2 linked regions of the Homo sapiens genome follow. The protein of the gene in region 1 interacts with the protein of each later gene in a biochemical or structural test. Each region holds a gene or a part of one and is shown on either strand. Other genes may lie near its edges.

What was found. Proteins that work in one complex are often made in the same cells at the same time.
Region 2: of the proteins of DOT1L (region 1) and UBE3C, one has a biochemical effect on the other in vitro, tested with the Homo sapiens proteins (one study listed by BioGRID).

Annotation. Positions count from the first base shown.
Region 1 is NC_000019.10:2,215,916-2,222,941, reverse strand, and holds part of DOT1L (histone-lysine N-methyltransferase, H3 lysine-79 specific), read right to left. Parts: intron 6,662-7,026; coding exon 6,177-6,661; intron 5,988-6,176; coding exon 5,852-5,987; intron 5,171-5,851; coding exon 5,024-5,170; intron 2,835-5,023; coding exon 2,720-2,834; intron 967-2,719; coding exon 383-966; intron 1-382. UniProt on the Homo sapiens protein: Histone methyltransferase. Methylates 'Lys-79' of histone H3. Nucleosomes are preferred as substrate compared to free histones. Binds to DNA.
Region 2 is NC_000007.14:157,260,916-157,267,941, forward strand, and holds part of UBE3C (ubiquitin-protein ligase E3C), read left to right. Parts: intron 1-6,669; coding exon 6,670-6,840; 3' UTR 6,841-7,026. UniProt on the Homo sapiens protein: E3 ubiquitin-protein ligase that specifically catalyzes 'Lys-29'- and 'Lys-48'-linked polyubiquitin chains.

The DNA of each region.
Region 1 (7,026 bases):
GATGGCCGGGCTCAGTCATGGCCCCCTGCCTCCACCTGTTTTTTTTTGTGTTTTTTTTTGTCCCCCCGAGAGGGAGTCTCGCTCTGTGGCCCAGGCAGTGGCCGATCTCAGTTCACTGCAAGCCCCGCCTCCCGGGTTCACATCATTCTCCTGCCTCAGCCTCCCAGGCACCCGCCACCACGCCCGGCTAATCTTTTGTATTTTTGGTAGAGACGGGGTTTCACCGTGTTAGCCAGGATGGTCTTGATGTCCTGATCTTGTGATCCACCCGCCTCGGCCTCCCAAAATGCTGGGATTACAGGCGTGAGCCACCGCGCCCGGTCTCCCTCTGGTCTTTCTTTCACAGGCCGCGCTCCCCAGCCCTGCCGGTCCCCATCCTTACCATGGAGTTGAGGTTGAGGGGAGACCCCGAAGGCTGTGTGAAAAGGCCAGCGACGGACGGCAGGGCTCGGCGCTTGGGGGACACGCCTGCGCTCAAGCTGGGCGTCCCCGCAGATGCTCGCTTCCGCCGGCCGCGCCTGCGACTGTCCTGCCCGTGGCTCGGCACACAGTCCCCACGGGCGCTGGCGGTCAGGGGGCTGTGCTTGCTGGAGGGCGACTGCTTGGCACTGCCCGCACCAGTGGTGATGGTGAACACAATCCTCCTCTTGGCTTCACTCTCAGGATCTGAGAAGCCGGAATCGGAGGGCAGGTCTCCCTTGCTGGCCTCGGGCAACGGGCCCTGGGCGGCCCCACCAAGCCGGGGACTGGAGGAGAGCTGGTGGGCGGGAGAGGCAGGAAGCGAGTTCCGGGGCTGTGCCAGCAGCAGGGGGTGCTGTGGCGTGGAGCTGCGGGACCCCACGGTGGCAAAAAGGCTCCCAGAGCTGGAGGACTCATCCAAGGTGGCCGGCTCGGCTCCAGGTGTGAGAGAGGCCGGGCTGCCCGCCAAGGCCCCGCTGATGGCCACCGAGCCAGCGTAGGAGAAGCCTGCCGGGAAGGACATGGGGGTCTCAGGGGACACAGGATGGCCAAAGAGAAAGCCTTGCTGTGGGAGCACCACCCCCTAGGAGCTCTGTGGGCTCCAGGAGAGGCGGGGAAGTGGGGAAGGGGTTGGGAGTCTGAAAACGGCCCCTCTGGGGTGGAACCAGAAGGCTCTGTGGGCAAGCTCAAGGCTCAGGGCTGACCCTGTGCCTCCTCCCGCCCATCTGGGCTGCCTGTGCCCTGCAGGTCCCGGCTGAGACGCTGCCTCCCAAGAAGCCTCCTGGTGCGGGCTCCCCGCTGAGCTAGGCTTCCTCTGAGTAAGTTGCCCTCTGGCCCCGTGATCTCAGAGACACCATGAGGAAAGCCCATGGCTGCGTGGCCTCCCTCCCTCCTGTTCTCAGAAGACAACTCAGCTTGGATACTCCAAGCTATGGCCGCCTTGAAGGCCGCAGCCATGCTTCCCAGCCCACGATGAGTGGTGCACTTCCATGACCACCCGGGGACAAAGGGCGGCCTCCCTGCTTCTGCCAATGAGGCCTCAGTGCAGGGGCGCAGCAAGGCGCTTCTGGAGTTGGCTGTTTGCCACCCAGTTGAAAATCTCCTGAAACTGTCACTGCCTCTCGCAGAGCAGACCTCACCCCAAGGGCACAACCCAGCCCTGCGAGGGCAGAACTGCCCGGGCTTCGGTGGCCTCTCCAGGGCCCTCACGTGGCCAACCGTGAAGCCTGCCCAGCCTCCCTAGAGCCCCTCCTGTCTCAATAGCGGCCATGTACATTTTACTTGTTTTGTTGTTGTTTTGTTTTTGAGATGGAGTTTTACTCTTTTTGCCCAGGCGGGAGTGCAGTGGTGCGATCTCAGCTCACTGCAACCTCCACCTCCCAGGATCAAACGATTCTCCTGCCTCAGCCTCTCGAGTGGCTGGGATTACAGGCGTCTGCCACCACATCCGGCTAATTTTTGTATTTTTAGTACAGACGGTGGTTTCACCATGTTGGCCAGGCTGGTCTCAAACTCCTGTCCTCAGGTGATCCGCCCACCTCGGCATCCCAAGGTGCTGGGATTACAGGCATGAGCCACCACGCCCGGCCACATTTTACTTTTTACTCCTAAAAAAGTAGCTGCCGCATCATACCGCATCTCAACCTGGGGCCAGCAAACCAGCCTGGGGGTCTCATGTCCTCTGCTGTTTTAAGTACAGTTTTGCTGGCACACAGCCATGCCCGCTGACATGCTGTCTCTGCGGCTTCCACAACAGACAGGCCTGCAGTGTCAACAAAAGCCAAAGTGGCATCCTCTCTGGCTCTCTGCAGAAACTGGGCTAACAGCAGAGACTGCTCAGGCGGCACCTTCTCAAGGAACCAGAAACCATGCCGCTACCAGCACGGAGGCCCACGGTCGTGTGCCATTGGGCACTGCTGTGTGTGGAGCCGATCCTGAGTCAGGGGCCTCCCAGCTGTGAGTACAGGAGCCCCCGAGAGCACTGGGGCCGACCTCACGGGCTGAATTAATACACCCAAGCAGGAGGTGTCAGTGTCGGGAGACCCAGGTATGAGGCCGAGATGGCTGCAGCTGAGCCCGATCCGCATCCCAGCTCGTGGGATGCAGGAAAGGGTGTCAGTAATGAGGCGTGGCGGTTTGGGGCAGCAGCCCCCATGATCACCCCAGGAAGCCCTGTTCCACTCCCAGCAACCCAGCCCTCCTGCCTGAAGAGCAGCAGCAGCAGCAGAGTCCTGAGGGTAGGGCACAGGAGGGGCGTTACCTGCGGGGGCCAGGGCAAGGCTTCTGCTCCCAGCACCGTGGGCATTAGCACCAATCTGCTTTTCAAGTGTGGACGAGGGGTCACGGGGCTGCAGCACGGGACTGGGGGTGCTCCTCTGCAGAGAGAAAACCCTGTGTGTCAGGGGCAGCAGGTGCCCCAGGAGACCCAGAACCCAGCTGGAAACAGTGAGTGTTGAGGCCTGCAGCTGGCTGGGGGAGGCCGCCGGGGTCACCGTCCAGTACCGCGTGGGAAGAGGGCAGCGGGGGAACTTGAGCGGGGCCCCAGGCGAGTGGCGCAGCGAGAGTGCGCGGTGCCTGCGTGTGAATGGGCAGCGGGCCTGAGGCAGGGAGGTCAGGAGGCGGGGGTCCCGGGGTCCAGCTGTGGGGAGGGGGTACTGGGCACAACCCAAGCAACCCACAGCCCGCCCTCACCGGGAAGCGGCTGTGTTCTCCAAGCAGCACAAATGCCAGCAGTCGGGTGGGGTGAGGAGGGCGCTTGCGAGAACACACCTGCCGGCCACCACCCACTGCACTTCCCCACACCACACTCCAAGTCCAACAAAGGTCAGTAGAGTGACCGCAGAACCCAGTAGCTCCACTCCCACATGGGCCAAAGAGCAAACCTACATCCACACAGAAACCTGGACCCCAGCGCTCACAGCAGAACGATTCACAATCGCCAAAACAGGGAATCAAGCCGGGGTCCATCAACTGGGCACGGATGAAGATGGCACACTCCATCCACACAGGGAATGCCCTCACGTGCCAAGAGAAGGGACAGGCCCAGACATGAGCGTGTTCGGGGGCCCGGGGGCTGGGGGACGACTAGGGAGTGACTGCTGAGGCGGGCAACGCTTTTTCCCGGGTGAAGAAAATGTCCTGAATTAGACAGAGGTGTATAAAAGTACAAAAAACCGGCCGGGCACGGGGGCTGACACTTGGAATCCCAGCACTGTGGGAGGCCGAGGCGGGTGGGTCGACTGAGGCCAGGAGTTCGAGACCACCCTGGCCAACAGGGCAAAACCTCCACCTCTATTAAAAATACAAAAATTGGCCGGGTGCGGTGGCTCATGCCTGTCATCCCATCAATTTCGGAGGCTGAGGTGGGCAGATCACCTGAGGTCAGGAGTTTGAGACCAGCTCGGCCAAGATGGTGAAACCCTGTCTCTACTAAAAATACAAAAATCAGCTGGGCATAGTGGTGCATGCCTGTAATCCCAGCTACTCGGGAGGCTGAGGCAGGAGAACTGCTTGAACCCAGCAGGCGGAGGCTGCAGTGAGTAAAGATCACAAGATCGTGCCACTGCCCTCCAGCCTGGGCAACAGAGCAAGACTCCGTCTCAGCTGGTGGGGGCGGGGATTAACCGGGCGTGGTGGTGGGCACCTGTAATCCCAGCTACTCGGGAGGCTGAGGCAGGAGAATGGCATGAACCTGGGAGGCAGAGATTGCAGTGAGCCGAGATCACACAATTGCACTCCAGCCTGGGGGACAGAATGAGTCTCCATCTCGAAAAATAAAAAAAAAGAAAGAGGCCAGACGTCGTGGCTCACGCCTGTAATCCCAGCACTTTGGGAGGCCCAGGCGGGCGGATCACTAGGTCAGGAGATCAAGACCATCCTGGCTAACACGGTGAAACCCCATCTCTACTAAAAATACAAAAAATTAGCCAGGCGTGGTGGCGGGCGCCTGTAGTCCCAGCTACTCGGGAGGCTGAGGCAGGAGAATGGCGTGAACCCGGGAGGTGGAGCTTGCAGTGAGCCGAGATCGCACCACTGCACTCCAGCCTGGGCGACAGAGTGAGACTCCGTCTGAAAAATAAAAATAAAAAATAAAAAATAAATGCTAAAAACCACTGAAGCATATACTTGAAGCGCACAATTTTTAAAAAATAGTTCAATGCCCAGAAAATCCCGCCCATGCTACACAAGACGAGATTCTCTGCATGCACAGCGCTGGGTGGGAGAACCCAGAGGCAGCTGTGAGGACAGGGGCCACGGCAGCCAATGTGGCCTCGTGAGGAGTGAGGCTGGGAGCCAGGGTGGGCCTCTGAGCTCCTCCTCAACCCAGAAGGTGTGAGGCCCTCTCCACTTGCACACGTACCTTTCACCCAAAAGAAAAAGACTGGCGAAAACAACGGCCCAGGTCACCGGACACGCCCCGGCTTTGGACAGCCCACCTTGACTGCATTGCCTCACGCTCGACATTTTACAGCGTGAGACTTCGCAAAGTGAGCCAGGTCTCGAGCACCCCAGACTGTTTTGCCTCAACGTGGCCCTTGGGGACAGCCACCTGGGAGCCACTCACCGCCCTCTCGGCGCGGCTGGGCAGCACCACGCTGGCCAGGGGAATGCTGACCGGGAGCTTGTTGGGCTGCACGGTGCTGAGCGGGATGCTGATGGGCAGGCTGGTGATGAGCTCCCCGCTGCTGCCGTAGGCGCGCTCTCTCAGGCCCTGCAGACGAAGGCCCGACCCCCAGTCGTGGGTCAACAAACCCCTCCAGGACACAGGGACCACAGCCACAGGACGGGGGCCTGCTACAGCTCTCTCAAGGCGGCCCCCACGCTGCCAAGGCCCTGCAACCTTCCCCACGCAGTCAGGCCCTCCTGGACACCGGCTTTGGGACACTCCAGAGGGACGGCACGCTCCTGGTGTCTGAAAGCAATGCCCATCTGTCCCCTCCAGCCTGCCCGCCCGGCTCGGTGGGCAGTCACCCGTGGGGCCACCAAGCCTCCCAGGGCCCACATCCATCACTGCCAAGTCCATGCAACGTCACCGTCCTTCCCTCTCCATCCCTGTGCACACAGGCCAGTGCCCCCGGGGAAGTCCTCATGGGCAGCGGCCTCCCAAACTGGGCTCTGTGTCTCTACCAGCACTTGCCGTCCGTCACTGAGAACTAAGAGGCATCAGGGACACCCTGACAAACCCCATGTCCTCCATGGCACCTGCCCAACGTCACCTGTGACCTGTCCTTACTGGTTGCCCCCAACTCTGCCACAACATCCTACTCCAGGTCAGCCCCAGTACCTCACCGTGCCCCAAGGTCAACTAGGACAAGCCCTCCTGCTAGCAACTCGCTCAGGCCGCCTCTGCTGAGCACCTCCCTGAGCCCGGGGCAGGGGTCGCGGCCCGCACCTTCTCACTGCTCTTCTCTCCAGCAAGCTGCAAGGCCCCAGGGGACAGGGGCCGCGGGTCCTGAGGGCTCAGCTTCATGCTGCCAGGCACGCTGGGGCTCTGGTAGGGAAGGCCGTTCTCCTTGGTGTGCTCAGCTCTGGAATGAGAAGCTGCAGTCACTCTCGAGGGCCGTGGGCTGGCACTCAGAGGCAGCGGCCTGGCCCAGCACCTCCCCACCTCAGTCTCCTCAACAAACACACTCCTGCTGAGAACCCGACAGCCTGAGCACACCAGGCAGAGTCGGCAGGTACCAGCTGCAGACCCCCAGCCCCACCAGGGCACTCACCTCGAATGCAGCTCACTGGCAGCCGGCCTGCCGGGCACCGTGTGGTCCTGGCTCAGGTGCCGCCTCAGCACAATCTTGGCCGGGGACAGCCTAGTGTAGTCGGGTGCGGCTAGGCCAGACAGCTTCTCCAGGCGCGGCCGGCCGACGTGGCTAGGGGTACAGGGCACCACCTCCTGGTCCAGGGGTGAGGCCAGGTACTGGGGCGTGTTCTGCTTCGACGAAGGCCGGCTCAGCACACCGCAGAGCTCATAGCCAGCAGCCTGGCCGTTCATGGAGAGCTCCGGGCTCATGCTGCTCAAGTGAGGCAGCGAGAACTTGGTGCAGTCCAGCTCCAGGTGCAGCCGGCTGGCGTCAGGCTCCAGCTCGCGGCCCAGGGCGCCCTTCCCACGCAGGTGCAGGGACAGGGCGTCGTCAGGCGGCACACAGGACTTGAGCTGCAGGAGCTCCTGCTGCCGCTGGCTCTTCTCTAGCTCCACAATGCTGATCTGCAGGAGGAGAGATGGTGTCAGGCCCGCCCCACCGGGGGACCACTCCAGGGAACCAAGACTGCCACAGATGGACACCCGGAGGGGTGGCCAGGACCCCCGCTGCTTGTGTGGGATGGAAAAACCAAAGCTGCCGACCACATAGAGGCGGGGTCGGGAAGCTGGGGGCGTCAAATAAAGTCATGTGGAGGGCCGAGGATGGTTTTTGCTGACATGGAAGCACCTTCTTCAAAAAGAGCAACAGGAAGATACAAAGAGCTCTCGTCTCTCAAAATAGACTCTAAGTGTAAAACATCCAGTTTCACTAAGTGTAAAACCTGTGGAGGGACACGCCACTCGAGCGTGGCAGCTTCCCCGGGCGCTGA
Region 2 (7,026 bases), on another chromosome or scaffold:
ATGCCTCCGGGTTCGTGCATGGCCACTTGTGCTGCGTGAGCGTCGTAGGTTTAGGGGAACAGAAGTAGAGGGATTTACATGAGCTTTTAAAATCCCAAATAGACTGGCCAGGTGCGGTGGCTCACACCTGTAATCCCAGCACTTTGGGAGGCCAAGGCGGGTGGATCCCCTGAGGCCAGGAGTTCAAGACGAACCTGACCAACATGATGAAACCCCGCCTCTACTAAATACAAAAAAAAAATCAGCCGGGCATGGTGGTGCATGCCTGTAGTCCCAGCTACTTGGGAGGCTGAGGCAGGAGAATGGCTTGAACCCGGAAGGTGGAGGTTGCAGTGAACCAAGATTGCACCATTGCACTCCAGCCTGGGCAACAAGAGCAAAACTCTGTCTGAAAAAAAAAAAAAAAAAAAAAAAAAAAAAAAAATCCCAAATAGACTAAAAGGGAAAATCCTACCCCAGTCAAGACCCCGCACAATCATAATTGAGTTATACCGTGGAAAACACTTTGAGCATCCATGAGACGGTCTTACTGTTTTTTTTATTTTTCTCAATGTTCTAACATATGTGAAATTTAATTGATTTTTCCATGATAAGTGTTTTTGAAGTTGTTATATGTTAGACATCCAGTTTGGAAAAATCATCTTAATATTTAGGCTTTCCGGTTAGCTTAGTATGCCTGGATTTGCCAGGGCTGCAGAATTAATGTAGACTTAAAGGAAGAGAATGTCTTTCAGTTGAAGTACTATAAATAGCAAAGGCAGGCAGGCATAATTTTAAAGTTATGAAACTCCTTAGTGCCAGATTATTGGAGAAGAATAACATCTGCTAAAGCTAATTAAAGTTTAATATGTTTAATAAATGTGATTGTTACAGACAAAAAATCATTAAAGTGCTGTAGAAAATTGTTAAGTTACCATCAGGCCACATAATAAATTAATGATTTTTCTCACTCTGAATTAATGCAAATTCCCGTTGTACTGTATTTAATTATGCACAAAATGGTGCCCTTGACTCAGATTTCAGTGAAGAACTTCATTTTTTTACTTTTAAGTCTCCAAGTAGGAAATTCAATTAGCGTTATGAAAGAAACACTAAAATGTGGCATTTAATTGCAAAATATATTTTAAGCTTTTCATTTATCCAGTGACTTTGCCAGCAGTCACTGACCCCTTCATTCAGAGATCCTTTTCTGTTTCAAAAATGCAATGCTTCCTTTTTAGTATATTCAAGCATTTGTGAAAATTATTGCCCTCATGTACTCAGAATGCTGAATAATAAGTGTAATAAATGTTATTTCTGGTTCTCCTTTGGTTCTCATTCTAACATTTTTATGAGAGATTTAAAGGAGCAAATAAACTATAATTAGAAAAAAAAAGACAATGGATTTTAGCACATATTATATGCCACATATATATTTTTTAATGAAGTTTACATTTAACAGTAAAGAGACCTACAAAGATCAGTAATAAGAATCATGTAAGTCTCTTCATAGGCTTTTTTTTTTTTTTTTTTTTTTTTTTTGAGATAGAGTTTCGCTCCTGTTGCCCAGGCTGGAGTACAATGGCCCATCTCAGCTCGCTGCAACCTCTGCCTCCTGGGTTCAAGTGATTCTCCTGCCGCAGCCTCCCGAGTAGGTGGGATTACAGGCACCTACCACCACCCCCAGCTAATTTTTTTGCATTTTTAGTAGAGGCAGGATTTCACCATGTTGGCCAGGCTGGTCTCGAACTCCTGACCTCCGGTGATCCACCCACCTCAGCCTCCCAAAGTGCTGGGATTACAGGCATGAGCCACCGCGCCCATCCTCTTCATAGCATTTTGTGGGCTGTGCTCTTACTAGTTTTACCCTTAACATAAATTATATGCTAAACTCAACATATAATTGAAACAAAATCCAACTGAAATGTGGGTGTGGCCAGTTGGGTGCCTGTTGTGCTTTGTGACAGCTTCAGTGCTTCCAAAGGTTCCTGCAGAATGGGACATTGCTCTAGTTTGATTCACATTTGACTACAATGGTTAGAAGGTAATTACCTTTTCTATTTTTTAAATTTTTTTGAACATAAACTCAAGATTGTATTGTCTTCATAATAAAACAAAAGATGACACTTAGAATTGGATGTCTTGGCCCTTCCTCCTCTTCTGTCCTCCCAGTTCAGAATGCTCACATCTCTTTATATCCAGCATCCTCTTACATCTGCACCTATGCTCAACGCACTCAAGCCTCAGCACAAGCTTCTTCGTAGTTCTAGCCTTTTCCCGGAAAATCAGCTTAGTCTGCCCACCGTAGCCGCTATGCTTCGTGTCCTAACACCACCTTCCCCGGGCACCTGTCCTAACGCCACCTTCCCAGGCACCTGTCGTAACGCCACCTTCCCCGGGCGCCTGTCCTAACGCCACCTTCCCGGGCATACAGAGAATCCGTGCCCTTTTGTGCCGTGTCGCTTTGTGGGCTTGCCACACTTACAGAAAGTCGAACGGGGGCCGGGTGTGGTGGCTCACGCACTTTGGGAGGCTGAGGCGGGCGGATCACCTGAGTTCAGGAGTTCTCGACCAGCCTGGCCAACATGGCGAAACCCCATCTCTACTAAAAATACAAAAATTAGCTAGGTGTGATGATGGGCACATATAGTCCCAGCTACTCGGGAGGTTGAGGCAAGAGAATTGCTTGAACCTGGGAGGCAGAGGTTGCAGTGAGCCGAGATTGTGCCATTGTACACCAGCCTTGTTGAGAGAGCAAGACGCCAACTCAAAAAAAAAAAAAAAAGTCTAGCAAGTATTAGGAACATTCACTTTGTGGGAGCGCTGTTGGCACCGAAAGCACTTTTTTTATATTGGATTTTTTTTTTTTTTTTTTACCTTTCAGTAAAAGTAATGTTTTCATTATAGAAAATTGGAAATTGTGATCAAGTATAAGAAACCTATATTTCCTCCCATTCTAACCATTATTTTTTTATGTTTCCTTCCTTTAATTAGTATGTGTTTTATCTACCTACATGAGTGTGTGTTAATGTAGATATGCATAATTTTTTCTGTTTTTGGTAGAGGTAGGGTCTTGCTCTGTTGCCCAGGCTGTCAGAAACTCCTGGCCTTGAGTGATCTCCCACACCAGCCTCCCAAAGCACTGGTACTACAGGTGTGAGCCAACATGCTCGGCCTGTTACACACACACACACCTGGTATTACAGGTGTGAGCCAACATGCTCAGCCTGTTACGTGCACACACACACACCTGGTATTACAGGTGTGAGCCAACATGTTCGGCCTGTTAAGCACAGAGACACACACCTGGTATTACAGGGGTGCGCCAACATGCTCGGCCTGTTACACACACACACACACACACCTGGTACTACAGGTGTAAGCCAACATGCTTGGCCTGTTACACACACACACACACACACACCTGGTATTACAGGTGTGAGCCAACATGCTCGGCCTGTTACACACACACACCTGGTACTACAGGTGTGAGTCAACATGCTCGGCCTGTTACACACACACACACACACCTGGTACTACAGGTGTGAGCCAACATGCTCGGCCTGTTACACACACACACACACCTGGTACTACAGGTGTGCGCCAACATGCTCGGCCTGTTACACACACACACACACACCTGGTATTACAGGTGTGAGCCAACATGCTCAGCCTGTTACACACACACAAACATATATATTTTTAAGACAGAGTTTCACTCTTATTGCCCAGGCTGGAGTGCAATGCGTGATCTCGTCTCACTGCAGCCTGCAACCTCTGCCTCCTGCCTCAGCCTCCCGAGTAATTGGAATTATTACAGGCATGCACCACTACAGCCGGCTAATTTTTTATTTTTAGTAGAGATGGGGTTTCGCCATGTTGGTCAGGCTGGTCTCAGAAATCCTGACCTCAGGTGATCCACCCGTTGTGGCCTCCCAAAATGCTGGGATTACAGTCATGAGCCACTGCTCCTGGTCACGTAATTTTTAAATATAATTTTAGCTGTATCTTGTGTTCAGTTTTCTAGGCTACCTTTTTCACTCAACATTACATCAGGATCATTTTTCCTCATGTTATTCTTTGAGATATTTTTAATGGGCTTGTAGTGTCCCATCATGTGATTTACCAGTTTACTTTCTGTTTTTTAGTTGTTTACAGCTCTTCCTTCGTTGTGATGCTGTGAACCTCTTGTGCATAAATTATCATGTGCATCTCTAATTATTTCTTAGAGTACAGTCCCAGGAGTTGTGAATGTGGGTGAAGCCCCTGCTCCTGCTGCCAGGCCCACCTCTCAGAGAGTTTCGTGTACACGTGTGCAGGGAAGGGCTGACCTAGCTAGGTCTCTGAAACCCGTGCCAGATACTAAATCTGCACAGGCTGCGACAGTGAGCAGACTGAGGGCGATCTGTGCCTTATTGTCTTCCTGTTGGAAGAGAACACATAAATCACGTATCTCAAATGTGAGGCAAATAGCTAATGGTGTTTGTGTATACGAGGAAGGTGGAGTCACCGGTTCTTCGTGGCCATCAGAGGACCGACACGCCCATAGGTCTCATGCATTAAGTCTGCGTTGAGCAATCCCTAACACGGTTTTTGCCTACAGATACATTTGCACAACTGTGAAAACCAGGTACGTATTCATTGCATCATTTTTTGTAAAAAGCTGAGAGAAGTGCCCAGCAACACGTCGTGCCGCGCGTGTGCATGGAACACCATATAGCCTCACCATTAATAGGCAAGATGAGCGAGACCCATTATCAGATGAGAAAAGCACGGCACGGAATACTGTGTCCAATGTGCTCACCGTCTCAATTTTAAACCTAAAGGAGGGAGAACATTTTCTCATGCGTGCATTTCATCTCTGGGAGCACTTAAGACGCTGAAGCGTTGGTTGCCAGTGGGAATGGGAACTGGGTATCTGTGATACAGGGATGAGAATTTTCACACTGTACCTTTAAATACCAGAACGTCATGAACACATCTGAAAAACAATATTCAAATTTCCCTGATCATCTTTCTTTTTTGTTAACAATTATTTAAATTCTGGCACAAGCAAGCCACTTTTCATCATGCATTTGGTCTATAGATGTTCTACCTCCCTCAATTTCGTCTTGTAATTTAATGAATAGGGGAACTGGGGCCGGGCACGGTGGCTCACGCCTGTAATCCCAGCACTTTGGGAGGCTGAGGCGGGTGGATCACGAGGTCAGGAGATCGAGATCATCCTGGCTAACATGGTGAAACCCCGTCTCTACTAAAAATACAAAAAATTAGCCGGGCGTGGTGGCGGGAGCCTGTAGTCCAAGCTATGCGGGAGGCTGAGGCAGGAGAATGGCGTGAACCCGGGAGGCGGATGTTGCAGTAAGCCGAGATTGCACCACTGCACTCCAGCCTGGGTGACAGAGCAAGACTCCGTCTCAAAAAAATAAATAAATAAAAATAATAGGGTAACTGGGTTGCTTCTTTGTATCTCTTGAAAACTGATAGAGGTCTCATCAGATTCTAAATTTGAATTTTTCTTTTTTTGGCAATAACATCACATAGGTAATGTCGTATGCTTCCCATTCCCTTAATCATCGTGGAGATCCACTTCTCGTGAGTCATCTCCCCACAATGCTGGGATCGATCTCTGCGTCAGAATTCCTCTTGATTTTAGTGGTCACTTATCACTGCCTAGATCCATTGTTTAATGTGCTTCTAAAACAGCCGTGTTCTAATTACATAATTGTATAATTTATTAGCTGGAATTTTCTATTTAAAAACAGCTTTGTTTCTTCTCACCAATGATTTGGTTAACCCGAGTAATAGCTTGTACAGGAAAGATAGAATAAATCTTGATCCTTTTTAAAAAATTTTTATAGACAGGGTCTCACTGTGTGTTGCCCAGGCTGGAGTGCAGTGGTGTGATCATACCTCACTAACCTCGACCTCCTGGGCTCAAGACATCTTTTCACCTCAGCCTCCCAAGTAGCTGGGAGTATAGGGGCAGACCACCACACCTGGCTAATTGTTTTGATTTTTATTTTTAGTGGAAATGAGGTCTCGTTATGTTGCCCAGGCTGGTCTCGAACTCCTAAGCTCAAGCCATCCCCCAGCTAGGCCTCCCAAAGTGCTGGGACTACAGGTGTGAGCTATGCGCCTGGCCTGGAATGTTATTTATCCCTTTTTATGCCTGAAGCACAGTGCATAATCTTTTATGTAAGTTAGAACTAAGCCATCAATGTAATTTTTTAAAAAAGCAAATGTGGGCCAGGCACGGTGGCTCACGCCTGTAATCCCAGCACTTTGGGAGGCAGAGGTGGGCAGATCACAAAGTCAGGAGTTCAAGACCATCCTGGCCAACGTGGTGAAACCCCTTATCTAGGAAAAATCCAAAAATTAGCCAGGCATGGTGGCAGGCACCTGTAATCCCAGCTACTTGGGAGACTGAGGCAGGAGAATCGCTTGAACCTGGGAGGCAGAGGTTGCAGTGAGCTGAGATGGCGCCATTGCCCTCCAGCCTGGGCGACAGAGCTAGACTCCATCTCAAAGAAAACAAACAACAACAACAAAGCAAATGTGGTTTCGGGAAAATGTGACTGCAATGGTAACTTTACTGATTGGAGCAGGCACATTTTGTGTACTTTGTATTAAAACTCATGTAATGCCATGCTTGTTACAGTGACATCTTGCACACATGCTGTTTTTCAGGAGTTGTATCCCGCATTTTGTATTCACAACGGAGGCTCCGACCTTGAGCGGCTCCCCACAGCCAGCACCTGCATGAACCTGCTGAAGCTCCCCGAGTTCTATGACGAGACACTTTTGCGAAGTAAACTTCTCTATGCGATTGAATGTGCCGCTGGCTTTGAGCTGAGCTGAAGCTGATGCTGGGGTCAGACCCCTACAGAGAACCAGTGCTTCCTTCGTCAGCAGCGCCTCCCCAGACCCACGAGGATACTCACACTGCACGCCTGAGGCTCTCCTAAGCTCCTTCTTTCATTCTGCCATTCCTCCCTCCCTTCCTTTTTTAAATGATTTTTATTACGGTGTGGTCACTTATTTAGA